Homo sapiens: one gene and its partners. The protein of the gene in region 6 purifies or fractionates together with the protein of the main gene of each other region. This does not show direct contact. Each region holds a gene or a part of one and is shown on either strand. Other genes may lie near its edges. The genes, in order: PLG, PKP1, F2, FLG, EVPL, P2RX6 and ITIH2.

The links.
Region 1: the proteins of P2RX6 (region 6) and PLG purify together in Homo sapiens (affinity purification with mass spectrometry; one large-scale study listed by BioGRID and IntAct). This does not show direct contact.
Region 2: the proteins of P2RX6 (region 6) and PKP1 purify together in Homo sapiens (affinity purification with mass spectrometry; one large-scale study listed by BioGRID and IntAct). This does not show direct contact.
Region 3: the proteins of P2RX6 (region 6) and F2 purify together in Homo sapiens (affinity purification with mass spectrometry; one large-scale study listed by BioGRID and IntAct). This does not show direct contact.
Region 4: the proteins of P2RX6 (region 6) and FLG purify together in Homo sapiens (affinity purification with mass spectrometry; one large-scale study listed by BioGRID and IntAct). This does not show direct contact.
Region 5: the proteins of P2RX6 (region 6) and EVPL purify together in Homo sapiens (affinity purification with mass spectrometry; one large-scale study listed by BioGRID and IntAct). This does not show direct contact.
Region 7: the proteins of P2RX6 (region 6) and ITIH2 purify together in Homo sapiens (affinity purification with mass spectrometry; one large-scale study listed by BioGRID and IntAct). This does not show direct contact.

What each region holds. Positions count from the first base shown.
Region 1 is NC_000006.12:160,700,911-160,705,043, forward strand, and holds the start of PLG (plasminogen isoform 1 precursor), read left to right. Parts: upstream 1-1,333; 5' UTR 1,334-1,394; coding exon 1,395-1,443; intron 1,444-4,133. UniProt on the Homo sapiens protein: Plasmin dissolves the fibrin of blood clots and acts as a proteolytic factor in a variety of other processes including embryonic development, tissue remodeling, tumor invasion, and inflammation. In ovulation, weakens the walls of the Graafian follicle.
Region 2 is NC_000001.11:201,321,506-201,325,005, forward strand, and holds part of PKP1 (plakophilin-1), read left to right. Parts: intron 1-472; coding exon 473-628; intron 629-1,507; coding exon 1,508-1,684; intron 1,685-2,922; coding exon 2,923-3,076; intron 3,077-3,435; coding exon 3,436-3,500. UniProt on the Homo sapiens protein: A component of desmosome cell-cell junctions which are required for positive regulation of cellular adhesion.
Region 3 is NC_000011.10:46,725,713-46,729,212, forward strand, and holds part of F2 (prothrombin preproprotein), read left to right. Parts: intron 1-146; coding exon 147-461; intron 462-785; coding exon 786-914; intron 915-998; coding exon 999-1,125; intron 1,126-2,283; coding exon 2,284-2,451; intron 2,452-2,951; coding exon 2,952-3,125; intron 3,126-3,500. UniProt on the Homo sapiens protein: Thrombin, which cleaves bonds after Arg and Lys, converts fibrinogen to fibrin and activates factors V, VII, VIII, XIII, and, in complex with thrombomodulin, protein C. Functions in blood homeostasis, inflammation and wound healing.
Region 4 is NC_000001.11:152,304,953-152,308,239, reverse strand, and holds part of FLG (filaggrin), read left to right. Parts: coding exon 1-3,287.
Region 5 is NC_000017.11:76,017,307-76,020,806, reverse strand, and holds part of EVPL (envoplakin), read left to right. Parts: intron 1-1,153; coding exon 1,154-1,279; intron 1,280-1,746; coding exon 1,747-1,893; intron 1,894-2,206; coding exon 2,207-2,361; intron 2,362-2,548; coding exon 2,549-2,646; coding exon of another isoform or gene 2,647-2,712; intron 2,713-2,895; coding exon 2,896-3,068; intron 3,069-3,500. UniProt on the Homo sapiens protein: Component of the cornified envelope of keratinocytes. May link the cornified envelope to desmosomes and intermediate filaments.
Region 6 is NC_000022.11:21,025,165-21,028,508, forward strand, and holds the end of P2RX6 (P2X purinoceptor 6), read left to right. Parts: intron 1-640; coding exon 641-734; coding exon of another isoform or gene 735-744; intron 745-846; coding exon 847-912; coding exon of another isoform or gene 913-1,087; coding exon 1,088-1,165; intron 1,166-1,255; coding exon 1,256-1,453; coding exon of another isoform or gene 1,454-1,562; 3' UTR 1,563-2,844; downstream 2,845-3,344. UniProt on the Homo sapiens protein: May act as a modulatory subunit rather than a functional channel. Unlike other P2XRs members, P2RX6 does not seem to form functional homotrimers.
Region 7 is NC_000010.11:7,741,316-7,744,815, reverse strand, and holds part of ITIH2 (inter-alpha-trypsin inhibitor heavy chain H2 precursor), read right to left. Parts: intron 1,671-3,500; coding exon 1,557-1,670; intron 735-1,556; coding exon 536-734; intron 26-535; coding exon 1-25. UniProt on the Homo sapiens protein: May act as a carrier of hyaluronan in serum or as a binding protein between hyaluronan and other matrix protein, including those on cell surfaces in tissues to regulate the localization, synthesis and degradation of hyaluronan which are essential to cells undergoing biological processes.

The DNA of each region.
Region 1 (4,133 bases), on a different chromosome or scaffold from region 6:
TATTTTTTTTTCCCAGAGTACTTTCTCAAGCACATCAACATGAGCCCCCTAAGAGACATTTCACATTAAAAATAAAATGTCTGCCCACTGCTGGTTTCTCAATCTGCCTCCACCTTCTGTCCCCTTTAATGAACTGGGCCATGAGGTGAGTCAGAGAGGATAAAGGGAGTGGTAAGAATTTGAGGAGAGAAGAGAGTGAGGCTAAAATAGGAAATCAGGAAAAGCGATTCGGTCCCCCTGTCCCTCACATGGGGCCACCCTCTTGTTGCCCAGTGTGGCTTCTTCTTGAGGGTTCTGCATGGTTCCTCAATCCCAGGGAATTCCGCAGGACATTCCACCCAAGACCATTGGGCTCCCACCTCTACTCTTTTGCCAGTTAATGAATAGGCAGGAATTTCACTGCCTGGAAAGAGGAACAATGCTTTCTGGTCCTTATTTCACATCTAAAATAGAGAGGTCAATTGATTTATTCCTAAATATCTTTGAACACTAAAATAGAAGTTTTACAGCATATATACTACCTGGTTGCTCTAGACTTAAGCCAGGGAAAAGTACAGATTCAACATTTAAAATTGAGATAGACGCTTTCCACTTAATGCTACCAGTCTTGCTTTATTTCATGAGAATGAGAATATAATAATATGGCATACGTTCATTTGGGGGAAAGATTGATGTCTTATAACATAATTTATAATTACAGAAAACATGTGAGTTCACTGGGAATAAATAAATTTTGAAGATAATAAGATACTTTCACTTATGTCGTAATTTCTATGTCATTTGGTGTAGGATGTAGAGATATTAACGTTTACACCTAACTTAAGTTTGTCATCTAAGACCTGAAGGGGTTTTGTCTATCAGCTGCACCCCTGGGTAGAGACACAACCTTGGGGAAGGCCTCAGCCCCATCCCTCGTACAGCAGGAATGAGAACAGCCCTGCCTGTTGGGAAGCTTGAGGGAGGCTATGGACGTGCAGCGCTTGGCAGAGGGTCTCGTCATGGAAGGTTCCAGCAAATGTGAGATACTTTTATGATTTCATTTTCTCCAAAAGAAAGGGAATAAGAGAAGAGGGGAGGAAATAAGACTAATTGCGAGAGATAAAGTACAAGGGTGAGGGAAGGAATAAGGAGACATGACGGCAGCGTGGAGCAGCCGAGGGGGGAGATTGCTTTCACCACTTCCCAGCATCTATTGCAGATTCCACCCTCAAACATGTTGTAAGGACTCTTTATTCAAGGTAATGTTTGAACCCTGCTGAGCCAGTGGCATGGGTCTCTGAGAGAATCATTAACTTAATTTGACTATCTGGTTTGTGGATGCGTTTACTCTCATGTAAGTCAACAACATCCTGGGATTGGGACCCACTTTCTGGGCACTGCTGGCCAGTCCCAAAATGGAACATAAGGAAGTGGTTCTTCTACTTCTTTTATTTCTGAAATCAGGTAAGACATAGTTTTTTTAAATTATAAGAATTATTTTTTCTCCCACAATGTAGTAAAAATACATATGCCATGGCTTTATGTGCAATTCATTTAATTTTTGATTCATGAAACTTCCAGTTGAAAATCTTGTATAAGATTGAGGAATTCTTCAAGAAATAAGTTTAAGTTTCCTGTGAAGATTGTCAGGGTGCTGGAATGAATGGGCAGAGAAAATAATGGGTGATTTTTCAAATCTAAATGAGTGCACCCACATAATGGCCAGTCTAATTGAAAAAGAGCCAATGTAGCTAATTATGCAAAGGACGGCTAAGCTCTTTGCCTGGTTCTCAGTTTGACTAATTTATATCATCTCTGTTACGGTGTCATGCTCCCCTCACTTGCAAGTTAAAACAGTGAAATATCTCTTTGAATATATTCCGTTCTCTCACCAGTTCATGGTGGCGGCAGGGTCGGGGACTCAGCATTTCTCCCTTTGTTATGGCCTGAGGAAGGCTTTCCATCAGTATACGTTTGCCTCTTATCCCCGGAAAAATCACACGCATCCATTTGCCAGATGCTGTGTGCAGATAGTGATCAACAAATACTCAGTTGCTTGGGTTAGGTCCCTACATTTTTACACATACATACATACCTGTGTGTGAATGTGAGTGTGAGTGTGTATCCTTTACAAATACTAGCTTATTTAGCTCGTGGTATAGGTAGGGTAGCATATTCATCCTCATTTTATAAACAAAGAAATCAGACTTAGGAATATCATGTTATTTGCTCAGTGACCAAATTCTCAGATCTGGGAAATAAAGAAAACTGGATTTAAGCCAGGTTTCCCAGAAGGAATCTAGGGCTCTTCTCACTTTTCAGCTTTGTTTAAGCCTTTGAAAGAATATTCTAAACATGTCCTAGTACTTCTTTTTCTTTAAAAAAAAAAAAGCTTTATTGAGATATAATTAACATATAGAATTCACCCATTTAGGCATACAATCCAATGGATTTCAAGATATTGAGAGTTGTGCAGCCACCATCAGAATAAATTTTAAAACTATTCATACCCCCAAAAACGCACTCCACTCTCCTTAGCTGTTACCCCCAATCTGCAGCTTCTGGCAACCACTAATCTACTTTCTGTATTTATATCTTTGCCATTTTGAACATTTCATACAAACGGAATCATACGATTTGCTAGTAGTTCTTCATGTAAATAATGTACGCTTGAAATTCAATCTATAAATTACCAGATAAAATTTTACAAGTTGCACTTTAGAGTCAAATACATTTGAATTTAGTGGAAGCCATTCAAGGAGCTATCAAAGAAAATACAGAGCAGGAGAAAATTAAAGAAATTTTTGTAAGAAATTGGTGTATGTTGGGGGGTATGAATATTATATTTCAATGCATGGAAACTAGGACATAGATCACTATGAACTTATTCAGTGGGCTACACCCAAAGGCTAGATCAAACTTCTCTGCCACAGGATTAACATATGTTTTAACCCACCTGGTGGGCACATTCTCTCATAAGCTCTTTTGGAAAGCCAGGTTTTCTGTGGATGTATCATCTTTCCAGTGTGCTGCAATGCCCGGGGAGAGGGAAAAGTTTCTTTTACAGCCATGCTTAGTGGGAAGTGGAGAAACATCTTCCATTTCACAAATTAAGTCTTTTACACATGCAAATATGCATACACATTCACACACCACAGTGAGGAAGAAATTCTCACACCATTAATAAAATACATTTGCATCAGTAGCAATATACATCTGCATTTTGCCTATAATATAAATGTATTTTTCCACTAAAAGATTTGTTTGATGTTTCCTTGCCAGCAAATAAGCCCTATCAAATCCTATTGCCATATGAGTCCTAGAGGTGAATAAGAGAAGAAAAAATGGGGGAAAATTATTTCAAACTGAAAAGAGAAAAGTTTGATTCTGTTTTGGGATATTTCCTAGGGACATGAGCTGGGGAGGGGATCTCAGCAGCGATGCGCTATGAAGCATAGTAACATAACACAGAGAACTTAATTGAAGGGGGAAATAAATGGAAGTTTTCTTTTTTTGAATATCAGTTGTAGCCTGCTCTGCTATACTTCAAAAAAACTCTTCAGAAAGTTTAACTGAACTCACTGTAGGACACACTTTGTGGATTTATTGTGTGTTTTGAAGTCACACTGTGAGCTATATAGAATTAACCAAAACACAACTCTTCTTGAAAATGAGAGTTCAAGTTGGCAGAAAGTGCGGGGTAAAGACATGGATATGGGCCTAAAGCATCTATTTCTTTGTGATCTTTTGATATATCTCTCAAGTGCTTTTTAGTGGATTAGCTTTAGAATGCATCAGCCAACTCCTGCTCAATAATCCATTTTTCCAGCCCGGAATGTCTTAAATTGAGGAAGGACAAAGTCCCAGAGGTGGGGAGCAGGGGGACTTTGGCCGAGGACTTTGCATGAATCGATGAGCATGCATCCACCTCCCTGTCCTGCCCCTTGTGCTCTGTGTACCCTCAGGAGGTCAGGACAGGCCTTTCTGAGAATGAAAATCTGTTCATTTGCTTTCCTACTGGATACTTGTCATCAGCATACAAACCAATGCGCTCTGCAGTGTGTCATCTTTCAGAACCTCCCCTGACCGCATGTTCCCTGGAGGGCTCGCTGTCTTCAGAGCCAGGCTTGTCTCCTGCTGCAGCCTCCACTGCT
Region 2 (3,500 bases), on a different chromosome or scaffold from region 6:
AATGATGGGGGCACTAGATGGCTTTGGAATCTAGAGGCATGGGGCTTCTTCTGGAGGAGTTTGTTCTGGAAAAAAAAAAAGACACATTCTTCAATATCCCAGTCTGCCCATTGGCATGTTGTCCATAGCAGTCCTACCACACACTAGGCCCTGTGATAAGTGCTTTCTCTGTATCATCTTCCAAATAGCCTAGTGAAATGGACAATTGTAGTCTCATTTTACATTTGAGATAGCTGAGGCCCAGAGAAGTGAGGCCAGTCAAGTTCATGCAGCCAGGAAATGACAGATTCAAACTCAGGTCCCAGAGGTGGCCCTGGAAGACTTCCCAGGCTGATAGTGTGGTGGTGCCTGCGCTCATCTTTCCCGATGCAGCCCAGGTGCCTCTGCTCTCTTATTAGCTAGGGTAGGTGGTAGGCCAGGAGCCTGTCGGGCCGGGCAGAGGCTCAGGCCCATGCCTCTCCTTGGTCCCCAGTCTGTGGAAAACTGCATGTGTGTTCTGCACAACCTCTCCTACCGCCTGGACGCCGAGGTGCCCACCCGCTACCGCCAGCTGGAGTATAACGCCCGCAACGCCTACACCGAGAAGTCCTCCACTGGCTGCTTCAGCAACAAGAGCGACAAGATGATGGTGAGCACAGCATCAGCAGGGCGGGGCCTGCCCCATCAAGCACCCCCCCAGGAGCCACTGCCTCATCTGCCCTTTCCTCTGGGCCCTCCTGGAGCCTGAAGCCAGCCCTAAGGGACAGGCCCATGCTGACACCTTGGCCTGGGGCTCAGGGTGCACTCTGGGAGCTGGGTAGAGGCCATTCATCTTGCACAAGGGGGAATCTGTTCTTGGAACTGTAGGGGCTCAGACCACCTTAGAGGTCAAAAACTCCAGCCTTCTGTTTGCAGGCCTTGGTCTTTCTTCCTGTATAGTGGGTCAAGTCTCCCCCATCTTCTCCCTTGCCCTTGAGGATCTGAGGAAAGCCAGAACTCTCACTCTTTCTGGCCTTGGTTCCCACCATCTCCTGAGCCCTGCCAGGTTTCCCCAGAAGCAGAAGCCTACCAGGGATGGGTTGTCAGGTCTCCTTCACTGGGCCCAGCTGTGGAATCCAGGTCTCAGACCACCCTCTTTGGCCCAGGGTGGGTCAAACCTACTGTCTGAGTCTGGAAGAGGAGGAAGCATCATGATGGGAGAGTCCAAAGCAGCCCCACATATCTGGAAGGTTTGGGCCAAGGCTGCCCTGGAACACAGCTCCCAAGATGCCAGGATGCTCTCTTCTCCCACATCCTGGGACAGTCTGGGGGACCATGGCCCATTCCTGCATCCCATGGAGCTGCTGCAGTGCATAGAGGAAAGGGGTGCAGCGGGGCTGTCCTGGGCCCCCTGCCTCTGCAGGCGCTTCCTCAGCTTGCCCTATCTGGAACCACGACCCTGAGGCTGGGGGGATGGGGACAGAATGCCTGGGTTGTGTCCTCTCACAAGGCTCCCCATTGACCCCCCTGACCGGCTCTTTATCCTCAGAACAACAACTATGACTGCCCCCTGCCTGAGGAAGAGACCAACCCCAAGGGCAGCGGCTGGTTGTACCATTCAGATGCCATCCGCACCTACCTGAACCTCATGGGCAAGAGCAAGAAAGATGCTACCCTGGAGGCCTGTGCTGGTGCCCTGCAGAACCTGACAGCCAGCAAGGGGCTGGTGAGTGGGACTGTACCTTCTCTACTGCAGCAGCCCCATCCTCCAGCCACCGTCCAGCCTCTGCTCCCTCCTTTTCCCCCCAGCCTGTCCCCTGACTTCGGAGCCTCCCATGAGCAGAGTGTGCCTGGCATATGCTGGGCTCTGGGCTGGGCAATGGGGAAACACTCCTGCCCTTTAGGAGCTGCTGGGGGATGCAGAGAGGGTGGGCCCACTGATGCTGGATTCTGTCCATGCACACACAATCCCCTTGGCCACATGGCTCCCGGTCCCCAGCTGGCCTCCTGGGCTCTGCTTGAGGTCGGGGAATGCGGCGGAGAAGGTGTTTGGCAAAAGGAGTTTCCCATTTGTTGAACTGACAAAGGTGGAAAAAGAGGGTTTGGGGTCCAAGCAGGTCCAGAGAAGATGTGACAGAATCCGTGCAGATGTTGAGGCCAAATGTATGTAGCTTGGAGGGCACAGTGGTATGGGGCAGAGCCAGAGGAAACCTGTTGCAATCAAGAAGAGTTGAGATGGGCCAGGCGGCCAACTGTTCTTCAGCTTTACTTAGGAAAAGGGAACCGAGCAGCAGCAGCACTAGAGTAGACCGAGGGCAGAGAACTTCCCTGGCTGTGAGGAGAGAGGCTGGGCAGTTCTGAGAATGCCAAACCCACCTAGACCTGTTACACCCAGGATAGCTATGTTGCTTAGAGGCCTGGGCGAACTGGCCTACCTCTAGGGGACCCCAGTTCTCTCTCCATGTGGGCCCAGACCCTTTCTTAGCCCTCTTTTCTCAGGCAAGCCCTCAACAAATATGTGTTGGATTCTAAAGAGGTAGGAAAGTTGGAAGAAGATGGCCAGATGTTTAATTGACAAATACCCTTGACCATATAGTTTCACATGGGCAGATAGCGTGGGGAGATGTAATGGGGGCAGCGCTGAGACAGTGGGGTGAGAGAGCAGCATTGGACGCTTGGGTTACTCTGGAAGCTAACTCTGGGTCACTATGAGTAGGGGAAATGAGACTTCCCTCTCTCCACCCATCTGGGCTGCAGGCTGATCCAGGAGACAGGATCAGGGCTGGGAAAGGGGAGGTGCATGTTAGCCTAGGTTTCTGTAGTTGCCCACATGTGAGCTAGTGCTTCCAATATGAAAGAGAAAGGGTTCTGGGATGTCTGCCTTTGGGGCTCCTTGCCCCTTTCTGCCTGCCATGGTGCCTGGGAAGCCACAGGCTAGCTCATCATCTACTCCTTCTCTCTTAGATGTCCAGTGGCATGAGCCAGTTGATTGGGCTGAAGGAAAAGGGCCTGCCACAAATTGCCCGCCTCCTGCAATCTGGCAACTCTGATGTGGTGCGGTCCGGAGCCTCCCTCCTGAGCAACATGTCCCGCCACCCTCTGCTGCACAGAGTGATGGGTAAGGTCCCTCTCTCTCCTCCCCCTCTAGCTAAGACATGGCAGGCTCCCTACAATTCAAGCCTGCTTGAAGGTCATCCTTTAAGCCATTCCCTGGGATGAGCATTCCAAGAAAGGAAGCTGGCCAAAGACAGGTATGGAGACAGGAGAAGGGAGCCTGTCACCTGAGGGCTGGGAGCAGATCTGCAAAAGTCCTATCTGGGTCTCTGAGCCCTGAGTTGGAGCTGCCAGGAAGCCCTGAGGGCCACCTGGCTCAGAGCCCGGCAGAAGGCTATCGAAGAGTGTGGCCCCAGAGGGAACCCCTCAGCCCTTCCTTCCCCAGTCATCCTGACCCTGTGCCCCAACTCGTTCCTCTCCCAGGGAACCAGGTGTTCCCGGAGGTGACCAGGCTCCTCACCAGCCACACTGGCAATACCAGCAACTCC
Region 3 (3,500 bases), on a different chromosome or scaffold from region 6:
AAGGCAAACGGTCAGAAGCCCAGAGAGGTTAAGTAACCTGAGGTCACACAGGCAGAAAGCAGCAAGACCGGGGTTCACACCCCTGTCTGTTCCGGTCCATGTGTGGTCTCACTCACTCTGCTGCCTCCTTGCCCCTCACCCACCAGGCCAGGATCAAGTCACTGTAGCGATGACTCCACGCTCCGAAGGCTCCAGTGTGAATCTGTCACCTCCATTGGAGCAGTGTGTCCCTGATCGGGGGCAGCAGTACCAGGGGCGCCTGGCGGTGACCACACATGGGCTCCCCTGCCTGGCCTGGGCCAGCGCACAGGCCAAGGCCCTGAGCAAGCACCAGGACTTCAACTCAGCTGTGCAGCTGGTGGAGAACTTCTGCCGCAACCCAGACGGGGATGAGGAGGGCGTGTGGTGCTATGTGGCCGGGAAGCCTGGCGACTTTGGGTACTGCGACCTCAACTATTGTGGTGAGCTGCCTGGGTAGGGGGCCTGAGTTGCAGGGACAAATCCTGGTGGGAATAACAACAGCCGCTTCTGCTTATCGAACGCTTACCTCATTGAGTGCGCTCATTACAGCCTTACAGTAACCAGGTGGGGGGTAAGGTCCTGTGCCCATTTCACAGATAAGTACACTGAGGCCCCAGGAGGTTATTGCCTAGTAGCCCAACTGTGCATGCACGCTTAACCTCTGCACCAAATGGCCTCCAAGGCCCGTAGGGGAATTGGGGGGATCTAGGGGATGGGTGAGGAATGGCCCAGCCCAGTCCCAGCCGGTGCCTGGGTCCCAACAGAGGAGGCCGTGGAGGAGGAGACAGGAGATGGGCTGGATGAGGACTCAGACAGGGCCATCGAAGGGCGTACCGCCACCAGTGAGTACCAGACTTTCTTCAATCCGAGGACCTTTGGCTCGGGAGAGGCAGGTGAGGTAGTGGGCATCCGAGGGGATGCGGGGCTGCGGGGCTGGTGGCCAGGACTTGCCCCTCACTGCTTGGCTTGCTCTGCAGACTGTGGGCTGCGACCTCTGTTCGAGAAGAAGTCGCTGGAGGACAAAACCGAAAGAGAGCTCCTGGAATCCTACATCGACGGGCGCATTGTGGAGGGCTCGGATGCAGAGATCGGCATGTCACCTTGGTGTGTCCTGGAGCCCTGCGCTACCATTCACTCCTGGGGGCAGGTGTGCTGCTGGACCCCCACCCTCAGGCCCTGCCTGCAGGCCTGGGCTTTACAGATGACAACAGCTGAGCATCCAGGATCCCACCAACTCCACACAGCAGCCACATGAGATGGGTTGTTTACTTCTTTTTTTTTGTTTCTTAGATGGAGTCTTGCTCTGTCACCTAGGCTGGAGTGCAGTGCTGCAATCTCGGCTCACTACCTCGATCTCAGCTCACTGCAACTTCTGCCTTCCGGGTTCAAACGATTCTCTTGCCTCAGCCTCCTGAGTAGCTGAATTTACAGACATGCGCCACCACACCCGGCTAATTTTTGTATTTTAAGTAGAGACAGGGTTTCACCATGTTGGCCAGGCTGGTCTTGAACTCCTGACCTCAAGTGATCCACCTGCCTCAGCCTCCCAAAGTGCCGGGATTACAGGCATGAGCCACCACACCCGGCCCATGGGTCCTTTACTTCTAAGCAGATGGTAAAGCTGAGACTGACGGAGCTGGTGGCTCACCTCCGCGCACAGCTAATGGGTTTGAATCCAGTTCTTCTGATTCCAGAGCTGTGCTACGCTATGTGAACTCTGGACTGGAAGGACCTAGTTAGGGGGTGCAAAAAGCAGGAGGCAGGTCAGGTGCAGTGGCTCACCCCTGTAATCCCAGCACTTTGGGAGGCCAAGACAGGAAGATCACTTGAGGGCAGGAGTTCGAGGCCAGCCTGGGCAAAATGGTAAAACCCCGTCTCTACTAAAAATGCAAAAATTAGCCAGGTGTAGCAGCATGTCCCTGTAGTCCCAGCTACTAAGGAGGCTGAGGCGGGAGGATCGCCTGAGCCCAGGAGGCTGAGGCTTCAGTAAGCTGTGACTGTACCATTGCACTCCAGCCTGGGTGACAAGAGTGAGACCCTGTCTCAAAAATAAATAAATAAATAAATAAAAAAGTGTGAGGCAGCCCCTCAGCATCACACGGAGGCTCCAGGCCCCAAAGGCGGCCAGCCCAAGCTTGGATCTGGGCCCCGGAGGCAGCTCTGCCCAGCTGGGTTCTTAGACCTGGGATTGTTACTTCTAGGGCTGGTGTAGAGGCAGCCCCCTCATCCTCAGCTCCTAATGCTTCCTGCTGCCCCTCCCAGGCAGGTGATGCTTTTCCGGAAGAGTCCCCAGGAGCTGCTGTGTGGGGCCAGCCTCATCAGTGACCGCTGGGTCCTCACCGCCGCCCACTGCCTCCTGTACCCGCCCTGGGACAAGAACTTCACCGAGAATGACCTTCTGGTGCGCATTGGCAAGCACTCCCGCACCAGGTACAGAACTGGTGGCCCGTGGGTGTCTGGCAGGGGTCTGAGTCCTCCAAAGCGATCATGAGGGGCCCTGGTGGCTCCGGGACACATAGGATGTTCTGTATACCCCCCAGAATATAACATCCCAGCAGTCTCTGCTGGAAAGCCCATTTGGTCACGTCCTGACTGAGGCTTGGAGCTGCGGGGAGAAATCCGTCTGTCTCCTGGTCCCTCCAACACTAGGATATAGCCCATGTGGGAGTCTCTGAAAATAGAGTCTGTCTGGACTAGGGCGTGCAGCCTGTGCCCCTGTCCCCGTCCTCCAGGCTGTCTGACTCCAAAGCCCTGCACGGCTTTAGGCCCAGGAAGAAACACCCAGGGGGCTGCCATGGCAGGAACCAGCCCTATCCCCTCCCTGGTGGCCTGCAGGACACACTGTCTCCCAGACCCCAAGGGCAGGCAGTTTCCTGCTCCTTGCTGGGTGAACCTGCAGCTTCTCCATTTCTTTCTTGGGGTCTCTGCAGGTACGAGCGAAACATTGAAAAGATATCCATGTTGGAAAAGATCTACATCCACCCCAGGTACAACTGGCGGGAGAACCTGGACCGGGACATTGCCCTGATGAAGCTGAAGAAGCCTGTTGCCTTCAGTGACTACATTCACCCTGTGTGTCTGCCCGACAGGGAGACGGCAGCCAGGTGGGCCACCAGATGCTTGTTAGCTGAGGGGCAGAAGCCAAGTTCTGGGCCTGGCTCTGATACCAAGTAGCCTTGCAAGAGCCCCTTTCCCTTTTCCAGGCCTCGGTTTCTTGGAGTGAACCCAAAAGTTCTTTTCAGTACTGGCGTTTTATTTTTTATTTATATTTATTTATTTACTGACGGAGTTCCACTCTTGTCTCCCAGGCTGGAGTGTAGTTGTGCGATCTTGGCTCACTGCAACCCCACCTCCTGGGTTCAAGCGACTCTCCTGCCTCAGTCTCCTGAGTAGCTGGGATTACAGGCTAATTTTTGTATTTTTAGTAGAGACTGGTGGGTTTCACCGTGTCGGCCAGGTTGGTCTCGAACCCCTGACCT
Region 4 (3,287 bases), on a different chromosome or scaffold from region 6:
GGGCCGACAGCTCTAGACACTCACTGGTGGGCCAGGGACAATCATCAGGGCCCAGGACAAGCAGGCCCCGGGGATCCAGTGTTAGCCAGGACAGTGACAGTGAGGGACACTCAGAAGATTCTGAGAGGCGGTCTGGGTCTGCGTCCAGAAACCATCATGGATCTGCTCAGGAGCAGTCAAGAGATGGCTCCAGACACCCCAGGTCCCATCACGAAGACAGAGCCGGTCATGGGCACTCTGCAGAGAGCTCCAGACAATCAGGCACTCATCATGCAGAGAATTCCTCTGGTGGACAGGCTGCATCATCCCATGAACAGGCAAGATCAAGTGCAGGAGAGAGACACGGATCCCACCACCAGCAGTCAGCAGACAGCTCCAGACACTCAGGCATTGGGCACGGACAAGCTTCATCTGCAGTCAGAGACAGTGGACACCGAGGGTCCAGTGGTAGTCAGGCCAGTGACAGTGAGGGACATTCAGAAGACTCAGACACACAGTCAGTGTCAGCCCACGGACAGGCTGGGCCCCATCAGCAGAGCCACCAAGAGTCCACACGTGGCCGGTCAGCAGGAAGGTCTGGACGTTCAGGGTCTTTCCTCTACCAGGTGAGCACTCATGAACAGTCTGAGTCCGCCCATGGACGGACCGGGACCAGCACTGGAGGAAGACAAGGATCCCACCACAAGCAGGCACGAGACAGCTCCAGGCACTCAACGTCCCAAGAGGGTCAGGACACCATTCATGGACACCCGGGGTCAAGCAGTGGAGGAAGGCAGGGATCCCACTACGAGCAATTGGTAGATAGATCTGGACACTCAGGGTCTCATCACAGCCACACCACATCCCAGGGAAGGTCTGATGCCTCCCATGGGCACTCAGGATCCAGAAGTGCAAGCAGACAAACTCGTAACGATGAACAATCAGGAGACGGCTCCAGGCACTCAGGGTCGCGTCACCATGAAGCTTCCTCTCGGGCCGACAGCTCTGGACACTCGCAGGTGGGCCAGGGACAATCAGAGGGGCCCAGGACAAGCAGGAACTGGGGATCCAGTTTTAGCCAGGACAGTGACAGTCAGGGACACTCAGAAGACTCTGAGAGGTGGTCTGGGTCTGCTTCCAGAAACCATCATGGATCTGCTCAGGAGCAGCTAAGAGATGGCTCCAGACACCCCAGGTCCCATCAAGAAGACAGAGCTGGTCATGGGCACTCTGCAGACAGCTCCAGACAATCAGGCACTCGTCACACACAGACTTCCTCTGGTGGACAGGCTGCATCATCCCATGAACAGGCAAGATCAAGTGCAGGAGAAAGACATGGATCCCACCACCAGCAGTCAGCAGACAGCTCCAGACACTCAGGCATTGGGCACGGACAAGCTTCATCTGCAGTCAGAGACAGTGGACACCGAGGGTACAGTGGTAGTCAGGCCAGTGACAATGAGGGACATTCAGAAGACTCAGACACACAGTCAGTGTCAGCCCACGGACAGGCTGGGTCCCATCAGCAGAGCCACCAAGAGTCCGCACGTGGCCGGTCAGGGGAAACGTCTGGACATTCAGGATCTTTCCTCTACCAGGTGAGCACTCATGAACAGTCTGAGTCCTCCCATGGATGGACGGGGCCCAGCACTAGAGGAAGACAAGGATCCCGCCATGAGCAGGCACAAGACAGCTCCAGGCACTCAGCATCCCAAGACGGTCAGGACACCATTCGTGGACACCCGGGGTCAAGCAGAGGAGGAAGGCAGGGGTACCACCACGAGCATTCGGTAGATAGCTCTGGACACTCAGGGTCCCATCACAGCCACACCACATCCCAGGGAAGGTCTGATGCCTCCCGTGGGCAGTCAGGATCCAGAAGTGCAAGCAGAACAACACGTAATGAGGAACAATCAGGAGACGGCTCCAGGCACTCAGGGTCGCGTCACCATGAAGCTTCCACTCATGCCGACATCTCTAGACACTCACAGGCAGTCCAGGGACAATCAGAGGGGTCCAGGAGAAGCAGGCGCCAGGGATCCAGTGTGAGCCAGGACAGTGACAGTGAGGGACATTCAGAAGACTCTGAGAGGTGGTCTGGGTCTGCTTCCAGAAACCATCATGGATCTGCTCAGGAGCAGCTAAGAGATGGCTCCAGACACCCCAGGTCCCATCAAGAAGACAGAGCTGGTCATGGGCACTCTGCAGACAGCTCCAGACAATCAGGCACTCGTCACACACAGACTTCCTCTGGTGGACAGGCTGCATCATCCCATGAACAGGCAAGATCAAGTGCAGGAGAAAGACATGGATCCCACCACCAGCAGTCAGCAGACAGCTCCAGACACTCAGGCATTGGGCACGGACAAGCTTCATCTGCAGTCAGAGACAGTGGACACCGAGGGTACAGTGGTAGTCAGGCCAGTGACAATGAGGGACATTCAGAAGACTCAGACACACAGTCAGTGTCAGCCCACGGACAGGCTGGGTCCCATCAGCAGAGCCACCAAGAGTCCGCACGTGGCCGGTCAGGGGAAACGTCTGGACATTCAGGATCTTTCCTCTACCAGGTGAGCACTCATGAACAGTCTGAGTCCTCCCATGGATGGACGGGGCCCAGCACTAGAGGAAGACAAGGATCCCGCCATGAGCAGGCACAAGACAGCTCCAGGCACTCAGCATCCCAATACGGTCAGGACACCATTCGTGGACACCCGGGGTCAAGCAGAGGAGGAAGGCAGGGGTACCACCACGAGCATTCGGTAGATAGCTCTGGACACTCAGGGTCCCATCACAGCCACACCACATCCCAGGGAAGGTCTGATGCCTCCCGTGGGCAGTCAGGATCCAGAAGTGCAAGCAGAACAACACGTAATGAGGAACAATCAGGAGACAGCTCCAGGCACTCAGTGTCACGTCACCATGAAGCTTCCACTCATGCCGACATCTCTAGACACTCACAGGCAGTCCAGGGACAATCAGAGGGGTCCAGGAGAAGCAGGCGCCAGGGATCCAGTGTGAGCCAGGACAGTGACAGTGAGGGACATTCAGAAGACTCTGAGAGGTGGTCTGGGTCTGCTTCCAGAAACCATCGTGGATCTGTTCAGGAGCAGTCAAGGCACGGCTCCAGACACCCCAGGTCCCATCACGAAGACAGAGCCGGTCACGGGCACTCTGCAGACCGCTCCAGACAATCAGGCACTCGTCACGCAGAGACTTCCTCTGGTGGACAGGCTGCATCATCCCATGAACAGGCAAGATCAAGTCCAGGAGAGAGACACGGATCCCGCCACCAGCAGTCAGCAGAC
Region 5 (3,500 bases), on a different chromosome or scaffold from region 6:
GCCAGGAGAATTGCTTGACACCAGTAGTTCCAGACCAGCCTGGGCAACATAGCAAGACCCTGTCTCTATACAAATAGATACATCTCTATCAAAATAAATAAATAAATAAAATTTTATGGGGATGAGGTGGGGGGAAATTAAATAAAATATTTCTTAAAAGGCTCTTTAGGAGAATAATAATGAAAAAAAAAACGGTTGAGAAACCCTGATATAATATGCAACTGGGATTTGGGGGCAGATAATGTTTCATACATTTTCCTATAGAACCACAAGACTGTGATCACACACGTTGACAAAAATTCCGTCAAAGCACCTGGAATGCTTCTTTAAAGCACAGCTTCTTCTCCGGGGCTGGGACAAGTGCAGCTCCAATACCCTCTGTCCCAGCAAGAAAGACTTCAGGTGCTGGAGGGAGGCAGGTGACGGTGCCCTTCATTTGTGCAGGAAGGACGAAGACCAAGTGTTTTATGACCCACTTAAAAAAATTAAGTTCAGTGCACAAATAAGACCCCATTTGCAAGAGCACACCAGTGATAAAAGGTCCTGCCGCCTGGGTAGGAAAAAGAAAGACCGACCAGAGTAGGGGAGAGTGACAGTTTAGGTTTAGCTGGTTTAAGTTTAGCTGGTTTAGGTTTATCTGGTTTAAGTTTATCTGGTTTGTGTTTAGCTGGTTTAGGTTTATCTGGTTTAAGTTTATCTGGTTTGTGTTTAGCTGGTTTAGGTTTAGCTGGTTTAGGTTTATCTGGTTTAAGTTTATCTGGTTTGTGTTTAGCTGGTTTAGGTTTAGCTGGTTTAGGTTTATCTGGTTTGTGTTTGGCTGGTTTAGGTTTAGCTGGTTTCGGTTTAGGTGGTTTGTGTTTAGCTGGTTTAGATTTAGCTGGTTTAAGTTTAGCTGGTTTAGGTTTACCTGGCTTAGGTTTTTCTGGTTTAGGTTTAGCTGATTTGTGTTTAGTTGGTTTAGGTTTAGCTGGCTTAGCGGTTACTGGTTTAGTTTAGCTGTTTCACATTTATCTGGTTTGTGTTTAGCTGGTTTGTGTTTAGCTGGTTTAGGTTTAGCTGCTTTGTGTTTAGCTGGCTTAGGTTCAGCTGGTTTGTAGGGTCAGTGGGCAGCAGGTTGCACGAGGCTCTGCCCTTGACCACCCAGTGAACTCAGTTCCAGGAAGAGGCCGACTCAGTCAGCCAGACCCTGGCGAAGCTCAACTCCAACTTGGATGCCAAGTACAGCCCTGCACCTGGGGGCCCCCCTGGCGCCCCCACAGAGCTGCTGCAACAGCTGGAGGTGAGACAACCCCACCAGGCCGTCTGCACCCCACTTCTGGGAATTGGTCCTGTCCATTTTTCTGGGCCTCACCCCTTCTGCCTTGGTACCTAGTCCTATCCCAAGCCCTGGCCTGGGTGCTGGCAGGGGGGTTTACTCTAGCAGGAGGCTGGCCAGGTACCAGCAAGCTCCTCCCACTTCTGGACGTCAGTTTCCTCATTTGCAGTGGGACAAGGGCAGCCTGGGAGAGCTCTGAGGCCTGTCTAGCTTCTGCTTGGTGGCCTGGGTGATGCTGTGCCATCCCCCTCCCTGCAACTAGCAGATCCCAGGATCCTAGGTCCCCCAGAGAGGGGCTCCTTTTACTTTGCTGACTTAGAGACCCCTGCCTTCATGAAGGCCAGCCTCTAGGCCTTTTGAAGGACAGGTATGGTGTGGCCAGCCTCCAATGCAGCCTGGCCTGAGTCCCCCACTGCCTGGGCCCCCGGCAGGCAGAGGAAAAACGGCTGGCCGTCACCGAGAGGGCCACTGGGGACCTGCAGCGGCGAAGCCGGGATGTGGCCCCTCTGCCACAGCGAAGAAACCCCCCTCAGCAGCCCCTGCACGTGGACAGCATCTGCGACTGGGACTCAGGAGAAGTGCGAACTCCCCCACCTCACCCCTGCCACCATCCAGCCCCGCCCAACCCATCCCCTGCCCCTGCCCAAGCCCATCCCTGCTCCATCCCCAGCTGTCTCCTGCGCCCACTTTTGCCCTACTCCTTCCCTTGACTCAGACCCTCCTCTCTCCAAGTCCTGTCCTGCCTCTTTTCTACCCCAGCACCTCCCACCCTACTCTTGTCCCTGTTCCAGCTGCTGTCCCCATTTGTCTCTGTCCCCAGCCCCTACTCTGCCCTGGCCTTGGCCCCCTGCCCCTGAGCCCTCAGGAGCTGCTCCCTTTCTGTGCCCCCAGGTGCAGCTGCTGCAGGGTGAGCGGTATAAGCTGGTAGATAACACTGACCCGCACGCCTGGGTCGTGCAGGGCCCTGGCGGGGAGACCAAGCGTGCTCCCGCCGCCTGCTTCTGCATCCCAGCACCAGACCCTGATGCTGTGGCCAGGGCCTCCCGGTAGGTCTGTGTAGGGATACTCAGGGGCAGGCTGTGGGCAGAGCAGGCCGGCCCTGCGGTGTCCAAGCCCATGGCCCAACAGACCCCTGCTCAAAGGCTGGCCTTCACCTGAAGCTGCGTCTACTGGGGCTGGGGAGGGAGAGAGGCAGAGTGGGGACCTCTTTCTTCAATCTCCTCTTCATTCTAGGCTGGCCTCAGAGCTGCAGGCCCTGAAGCAGAAATTGGCCACAGTCCAGAGCCGCCTGAAGGCCAGTGCTGTGGAGTCTCTTCGGCCCAGCCAGCAGGGTACCCAGGGTGGCCCGGGGAGAGGTGGCTGTGGGGCTAGAAGGAGTAGATTCCGACTTCCGACTGGTCTGTGATGGGCAGGGGTCGCCTTGGGTTAGGGACCATCACTCTGGGGATTTCATCTCTGGGGTGGCCCTGCCCATCCCCTCCACCCTACCCCGACAGGACCCTCTGTGGGCACCTGGTGGGGGCACCTATCTGGCAGTCTGGAGATAGGCCCTGGGCCCTCACCAGCACCTCTGCCCCCAGCTCCATCTGGCTCAGACCTGGCCAACCCACAGGCCCAGAAGCTCCTGACACAGATGACCCGGCTGGATGGAGACCTGGGACAGATAGAGAGGCAGGTGCTGGCCTGGGCGCGGGCCCCGCTGAGCCGCCCCACACCCTTGGAGGACTTGGAGGGCCGCATCCACAGCCATGAGGTGGGTGAGCAGCGGGAAGGGGCGGCTGGGATGAGAAGCGGCCCGGCCCTGGTGCTCACACTTGAGGGAGGTGAGGCAAGTGCAGGAGCGGTGGCTGGGATGGAGATGGAGAAGGGTGTGGACAGACCCGGGCTCAGACAAGCTGGTTCCCCTCCTGGCTCCTCCACTGACCAGCTCCAGGATCTTGGACTACATAACTCTCTGGGCCTTGGTTTCCTCATCCCTGAAGCAGATGTAATAATGCCCAGCTCGCCTGATCATTCAGGAAGGTTCCAGTAGGGCCCAATGTCAACACCCCAGGAGGTATTCTGGTGAAGCTCCTGAAATAGCAAGGAAGCCTGGAGAATCTTAGGAAGAGATGTCCCCTGGCTGCAAGGGGGAGCCTACCTGGGGAGGTTGCAGCATTGTGTAAACTCCTTACCCAAGAACAGC
Region 6 (3,344 bases):
GCCACTGTGCCTGGCCTCAAGTTTCATAAATTGCATTTATTATCATGTCTTTGAGTCTTCTAAGCAGATCTATTGGATCCTTCTGCCACCGAGCGTCACCTCGTCATGCAGGCAGGCACACACGACCACCAGGCCTGGGGATGATGCCCCTCAACATAGCTCACTGCACCCCGTCTGATCTGGCTTCCCCAACCTCCCCAGCCCTTCGAAACCACGTGGGGCTGGCTCCCACCCACATCCTGTTCCCCTGACCTCTGTGCTGGCAAACCACCTGTGTGCATGTTCCTTCAGGCCCAGCCTCATGTCCCCTCCAGGAAGTCTACCCCAGTTCCCAGGGAAGAGTGAGTTCCCATCTCTGGAATCCCTCAGCCCTGAGCCTGCCCCTTCACATCCCCCGCTGCTGGGTCTGTTTAGGGACTCCTCTGTCCCCCGTCCTCTCAGCAGGCAGGGAACTTCTGAGGGACAGGTCTTCGTTTGCTTTTTCTGTTTTCTCACCAATTACATAGGGCTGAGACCCAGGACTCAGGCTTGGGCTGGGGGTTTATAGAGTCAATTGACAAGTTGGACAGAGGTCTGGCAGGGCCAGCCCCACCTGGGGGTGGGCAAAGCAGGTCACCAGAGCCTTCTTTCCTGCCCACAGGACAGCCACTCACTGGTGGGAGCAACCGGGTGTGGAGGCCCGCACCCTGCTCAAGCTCTATGGAATCCGCTTCGACATCCTCGTCACCGGGCAGGTAGGCACAGGTAGGGGTCAGGCCGGGGATGGGATGGGGCAGGCAGACAGGGCTGGAGGAGGCATGAGGCTGACAGTCGTGGGCTGAGAGGTTCAGCTCAGATCTCTCTCAGGCAGGGAAGTTCGGGCTCATCCCCACGGCCGTCACACTGGGCACCGGGGCAGCTTGGCTGGGCGTGGTGAGTGCGAGCACTGTGGGCACCTGCAGGCTGCAGTGAGTGCTGCTGACCAGGGTGTGTCCAATGCATGCTGGAGCCTCCGGTGCCTGCACATTGAGTCTCGGGGTGCAGGCTGGGGAGGTGGCAGGAGAGCAGGCTCGGGGGCTGGAACATGGGTTGGCCCTGCCTCTCCCAGGTCACCTTTTTCTGTGACCTGCTACTGCTGTATGTGGATAGAGAAGCCCATTTCTACTGGAGGACAAAGTATGAGGAGGTGAGCTGAGGTCGCTCTGCTTGGACCCTGGGTTCTGCCACACTTAGGAAGATGTTGGCTGGATCCCTGACCTGCTGTCCTCATCTGCAGGCCAAGGCCCCGAAAGCAACCGCCAACTCTGTGTGGAGGGAGCTGGCCCTTGCATCCCAAGCCCGACTGGCCGAGTGCCTCAGACGGAGCTCAGCACCTGCACCCACGGCCACTGCTGCTGGGAGTCAGACACAGACACCAGGATGGCCCTGTCCAAGTTCTGACACCCACTTGCCAACCCATTCCGGGAGCCTGTAGCCGTTCCCTGCTGGTTGAGAGTTGGGGGCTGGGAAGGGCGGGGCCCTGCCTGGGGATCTCAAGGATGAGGCCCCAGCATGGAGGATTGGGGGTAGAATTCCACCCTTGAACCCCAGCAGACAGTCCCTCCCCTGACTCCCACCTTGGTAGGGTGCTGCCTCAGGGAGCCATAGAAGTCGGCTGTGTTTTGAGACGGCGACAGAACCTGACCCGTGGAGACTGGGAGAGCCCAGCAGGCACCTGTATTGCAGGGCTCCGACTGCATGTGGCAGGGGCTCCTGCTGCGTCTGGGCCTGGAGGTCTCTCTCCCAGTGCTCTGTCCCCAGTGTTCCTAGCAGAGGTATGCTTACCAGCTGTCAGCACAGACCCTCCTGCTGCCTGGGTCCTGGCCCTCCTCCCCCATCTGCACCCCCATCATAGGTAGAGACCCCACCCTCCCATCGGTCCTACATGGGGCTGTGCAGCTGGAGCCAAAAAGGCAAGGTAGAAAGAGGAGTGATGGGGGAGGGGGATTGTTTCAGCTTCTCTGGTGCTGTGATGCCCCAGGAGAGTCCTAATCTAGGGAATGGGGTGGAGTAGGCAGATAATCCACCTCCCTATCCCCCAGGCAAGGGCGGAGCATGTGTCTTGGGCCCACACCTGCTTAGTTTATGAGGACCGGCTGCTTTCCAGTGGTAGCCCTTTTGCCATGGAGGTCTGGGAGAGAGAGCAGAGGGCGGCAGGGCTAAGTTGGTGATCATTGGGTTCTTCAGGACCTTCTATATCCCTCCTCGGTAACCCCCCAGCCCAACCCCTTGGAATCTTTCCTCCAGGCTTCCTGAGAGCCCTGGGGGTGGGAGGCTGTGGGAGGCTGTACATCTGAAATTCACTTCAGTCCAAGTCATACCTAGGAAGCTGTCTGGGCAGCTGCTCGAGGGAGGCCCTGGCTCTGATCCCAGGCTGGATGGAGTGGCTGGAAGGAATGGTTCCAAACAACACCACCGAGATCTCCCTCAGGCTGGCCAGGTTTTGCAGCTGGAATTCTCCTCTTGGTCCCAGGGCGGGGCAGGGAATTCTAAGTGTCCACCCCAGGGAGGCAAGGGGCTGCTTTCCACTGTGGGTACCTGGTGATCAGGGCAAGCTGTGGAGGGCCAGGGGTGGGGCTGAGACTGGGCTGACATCTAGAATCACCTGCCACCTGGAGCCTCAGTAAAATGCCTGGGGTCCCTGCTGCCTCTCAATCTCCAGAGCCATGTCCATGGGGAGGTGGGCTCTGAAGGGCGAAGGTGGGAGAGCAGGGCCCCTGAGGCCTGGGTATCCAAGGAGGGGCACGTGCACCTGATTCTCCTTGGGGCCCAGAGGAAGCTGATGTCATGGCTGGACAAAGTCACGGAGTAAAGCCAGCAAAGCCACCCTCTTCCTGTGTAGTCCTTACAGGCATGACTGGAAAGTTGGGGGGCATCTATGGTAGACATGGCACAGCCATGAAGAGACCAGTGGGGTGGTGCAGGGTGGACTTGGGGACCCTACCCCTGAAGACTGAGGCCCTGCAGCTACCAGGTGGGCTAGAAGGTAACTGGAACAGGCCTGGGCACTTGTGCACCCATGTAGGAGCATGAGGGCCACACTCTTTTCACCTCAAAGCCCTTGAAGAGTGGGCAAAGACAGCAAGAGAGCTGCAGCCTGGGCCCGAGCTCAGAAACAGCTGTCGCCTCAGTCTGCGCACAGGCATGCACCCCAGGGTAGTGCCTGCAGGGATGCATGTGTCCCCGTGGGGGTGCCTGTGCCAGGCAGGCCTCAGGTGCATGCCATGCTCAGAACCCTGCTGCCCTTTCTAGGCAGCCTCCTTGGGGCCCAAGCTCTGCTCCCTGGATCTGCCACCTAGCAGACGTGGGGAGCCTGACCCCATGCC
Region 7 (3,500 bases), on a different chromosome or scaffold from region 6:
TTCTTTCTTCACTGAGATCTGCACCCTGGTGTGAAAGTCCAAGAGGAATTAAACCATTCCAGAACAGACCTTTTGAGAAAGTCATTCTTCTCACCCCTAATATGAACTCTTCACTCCTCCCAGACAATTCCGCTAGTTATCTAAGCGCTTGCAACAGTTTATAGATAAATGATGGATTAACAGAAACTCATTGGGAAGCTTCTACGCAGAGGACACAATCATGGCGTTTGGAGCTCACTCTGCGATAGAGTCAGTATGGATTTCAGCTGGTGGATTTGTTCACTGATTAGCACATACACAGTGAGTGTTTACTGATGCCAGGCACTGGACTAGGTCCTGGGACCCAACGGTGACCAAAAACACACAGTGCCCACTGCCAGGAACAGAGTAGGGAGTGAGAACAATTTTTCTGAACCTCAACTTCCTTATATTTAAAATGATGATTTTTTTTCAATGTTGATGTCACTGATGCCTGGATTTATTTATGCAGTCGTGTGTCACGGACAGGCCCAAGTTCAGATGGAATCATACTTGCCTCTGATTCGTGACTTGAGCCGTGTCGGACCAGGACAAGGAGAATGTGCTAGAACCATGGCTCAGGGTGATGGTCTCAGTGCTGATTTCTATTTTTATGTCTTCACTTTGGAAATAAAATCCCAGTTTTCCAAAATAGGTGCTTAGTTTTCCATTGTTGGGCTTCTTGGCACCAACAAGCTGACCGTTGACTACAATTCCTACAGGAAAGAAAAAAATGATGTTTTCTCTTCTGTGCCATTTATTTTGCATGTGTGGGTACTATAATTCAAATTTATAAAAACTTGGCAATATTGGAAAATTATTATAATTTTGCTTCAAGATTTACATTAACATTTTCTTCTTTGTGATTCTCATTTTATAACATGTTAATATAACATTTATAAATTTTAATAAAATTTAATTTAATAATTTTATATCAGTTATAAAATTTAATTGTCAGTTTATAAAATTTAAATAATTGACTATCATATAGTATTTAAATTTTTTGTTGTTGTTTTTGAGACGGAGTCTTACTCTGTCACTCAGGCTGGAGCGCAATGGTGTGATCTTGGCTCACTGCAACCTCCACCTCCCGGGTTCAAGCAATTCTCCTGCCTCAGCCTCCTGAGTAGCTGGGATTACAGGTGTGTACCACCACGCCTGGGTAATTGTTTTTGTATTTTTAGTAGTGGGGGGTGGGGTTTCATCATTTTGACCAGGCTGGTCTCGAACTCTTGACCTCAGATGATCCGCCCACCTCGGCCTCCCAAAGTGCTGGGATTGCATGTGTAAGCCACCGTTCCTGGCTCATATTTAAATTAATTATATCACAACAAGATCTGCAAGTTCATACTCAGAGTATATATTTTGAACTATAATGGTTCAAAATAGTTAAGAATATATTTATAATTTAATTTCTCACTAATATCACTGAAATATATAGAACTTCTATTAAGCTGAGAAAGAAAGAAATCCCAGGCAGTGACAGGAAAGCATGACAATGACCTAATTGGTGCAAATATAATTTATTTTTATTTTACCTGATTCTGGGTCAGAAACCAGGTTGAGGATTTTTCCAGGTTCTGAGTCAATATTGAAACAAATGTTCTTTTGGCTTTTTGGTAGATAAATGATGAAATGTGGGTCATTTTCAACTGGAAAATATACAAAGAAAACGTAAACAAAATCATTAAAAGGAAGATGATTTTGAGCACTATGTCATTCCTGAACATCTTTAATTTAATCAGAACAAATATTTATTGTGCTTCTCCTACATGCTCGGTACTCCTCCAGGTCTTGGGGACCCAGTGGTTCATACTCCATTGTCCCTTTGTCACGGAGCCTTCTTCAGAACCCTATGTTATTTTACAAATATAGTGGATATTTATTTTGTAGCTAAAAATGTATGCACTAGACTAGATACTAGAGATAAAAAATGAATAAGAAAGACTTAAGGAATAAGAAATACACACAAATATGCACCCACAAATATAAGAAACATACATACACGTGTGTGAATATGTGTGTAGACAGAAAAATAGAGTTGGGTGTTTTTTGAGACAGGATCTCCCTCTGTCACCCAGGCTGGAGTGCAATGTTGCAATCATGGCTCACTGCAGCCTTGACCTCCAAGGCTCAAGTCATCCTCCCAGCTCAGCCTCCTGAGTAGCTGGGGCAACATCCATGTGCCACCATGTCTAGCTAATGTTTTGTATTTTTTGTAGAGATGGGGGGTCTCACTTTGTTTCCCAGGCTAGTGTCAAACTCCTGAACTCAAGTGATCCACCCATCTCAGCCTCTCAAAGTCCTGGGATTAAAGGTGTGAGCCGCCTCACCCAGCCTGGAGATATATTTTTTAAGGAGCCATATACAATGCAGGAAAACAAAGGAGACACACTATTATTGTTGACATACAGATTAATATGATTCAATTCCAAAAGCAATGAAGAATCAAGCTACTCCCAAGAAAGTACTCCTTTGTTATTGAACCTAATTATTTTAGATAATCCTTCCTTGCTTCCCCTCCCCTCCCGCTCCCCCATCCCCACTCTCCCTCTCCCGCTCTTTCCCATTTAACCATTCAACAAATACTTGGTGAAGGAAAAAAAAAATCTATGTGCAATCACTAAATTTGGCAATGTTTGGTGTTAACTATAAACATAAGTCATGGTCAGTAACTTCAAGAAAGTAATACTTTAGTGCAAGGGGCAGACATAATCACGAATGTAAGATAGAATGAAGTACATGGTGCAATAGTGGCTCAAGTAAAATGCTGTGAGAATGAAGATGAAAATGATTAGTGCCCCCCAGGCAAACAGCAAGGCTGAATGGAGGAGGTGGCTTCTGAACTGTCTTTAAGGTCAGAGGACAGCGGGGAAAGACAAAAGGCTAAGGAGGAAGAGATTTTATTCTGAGTGTACAGAATGAGGAAGGAGTGGAGGTAGAAGAGTTTATGATTTCTTTAGAAAATAACTCAATGCGACCAGAGGACAGGTTCTTGAAGAATGCAGAGAAAAAGAGCTAAAAGTAGAGATCACAGAGACCCTGAAACACCAAGAATGGGCCTTTATTCTGTTGAGCAGCTATTAAAGGTTTCTGAGAATAAATGTGACTTGACCCTCATTTTAGGAAAGTTGTTGGTGGCAGTGTTACTAAAAGTTTGCAGAGGAGTTACAGGAAGCTTGTGCAGTGGCTAAAGCAGTCACTCAGGCCAGAAATGTTCAGTTCACACCTCCAGGTTCATGCTCTGCAGTCCACAAATACATGGTTAGTTGATTGTTCTTGGAGCCAGACACTACAGGGCATTGTAAAAACACAGAACAGGCCAGGTGCGGTGGCTCACGCCTGTAATCCCAGCACTTTGGGAGGCTGAGGCGGGTGGATCACGAGGTCAGGCATTCGAGACCAGCCTGGCCAGCATAGTGAAACCCCGCCTCTACTAAAAATACAAAAAATTAGCCGGGTGTGGTGGCGGGCACCAGTAA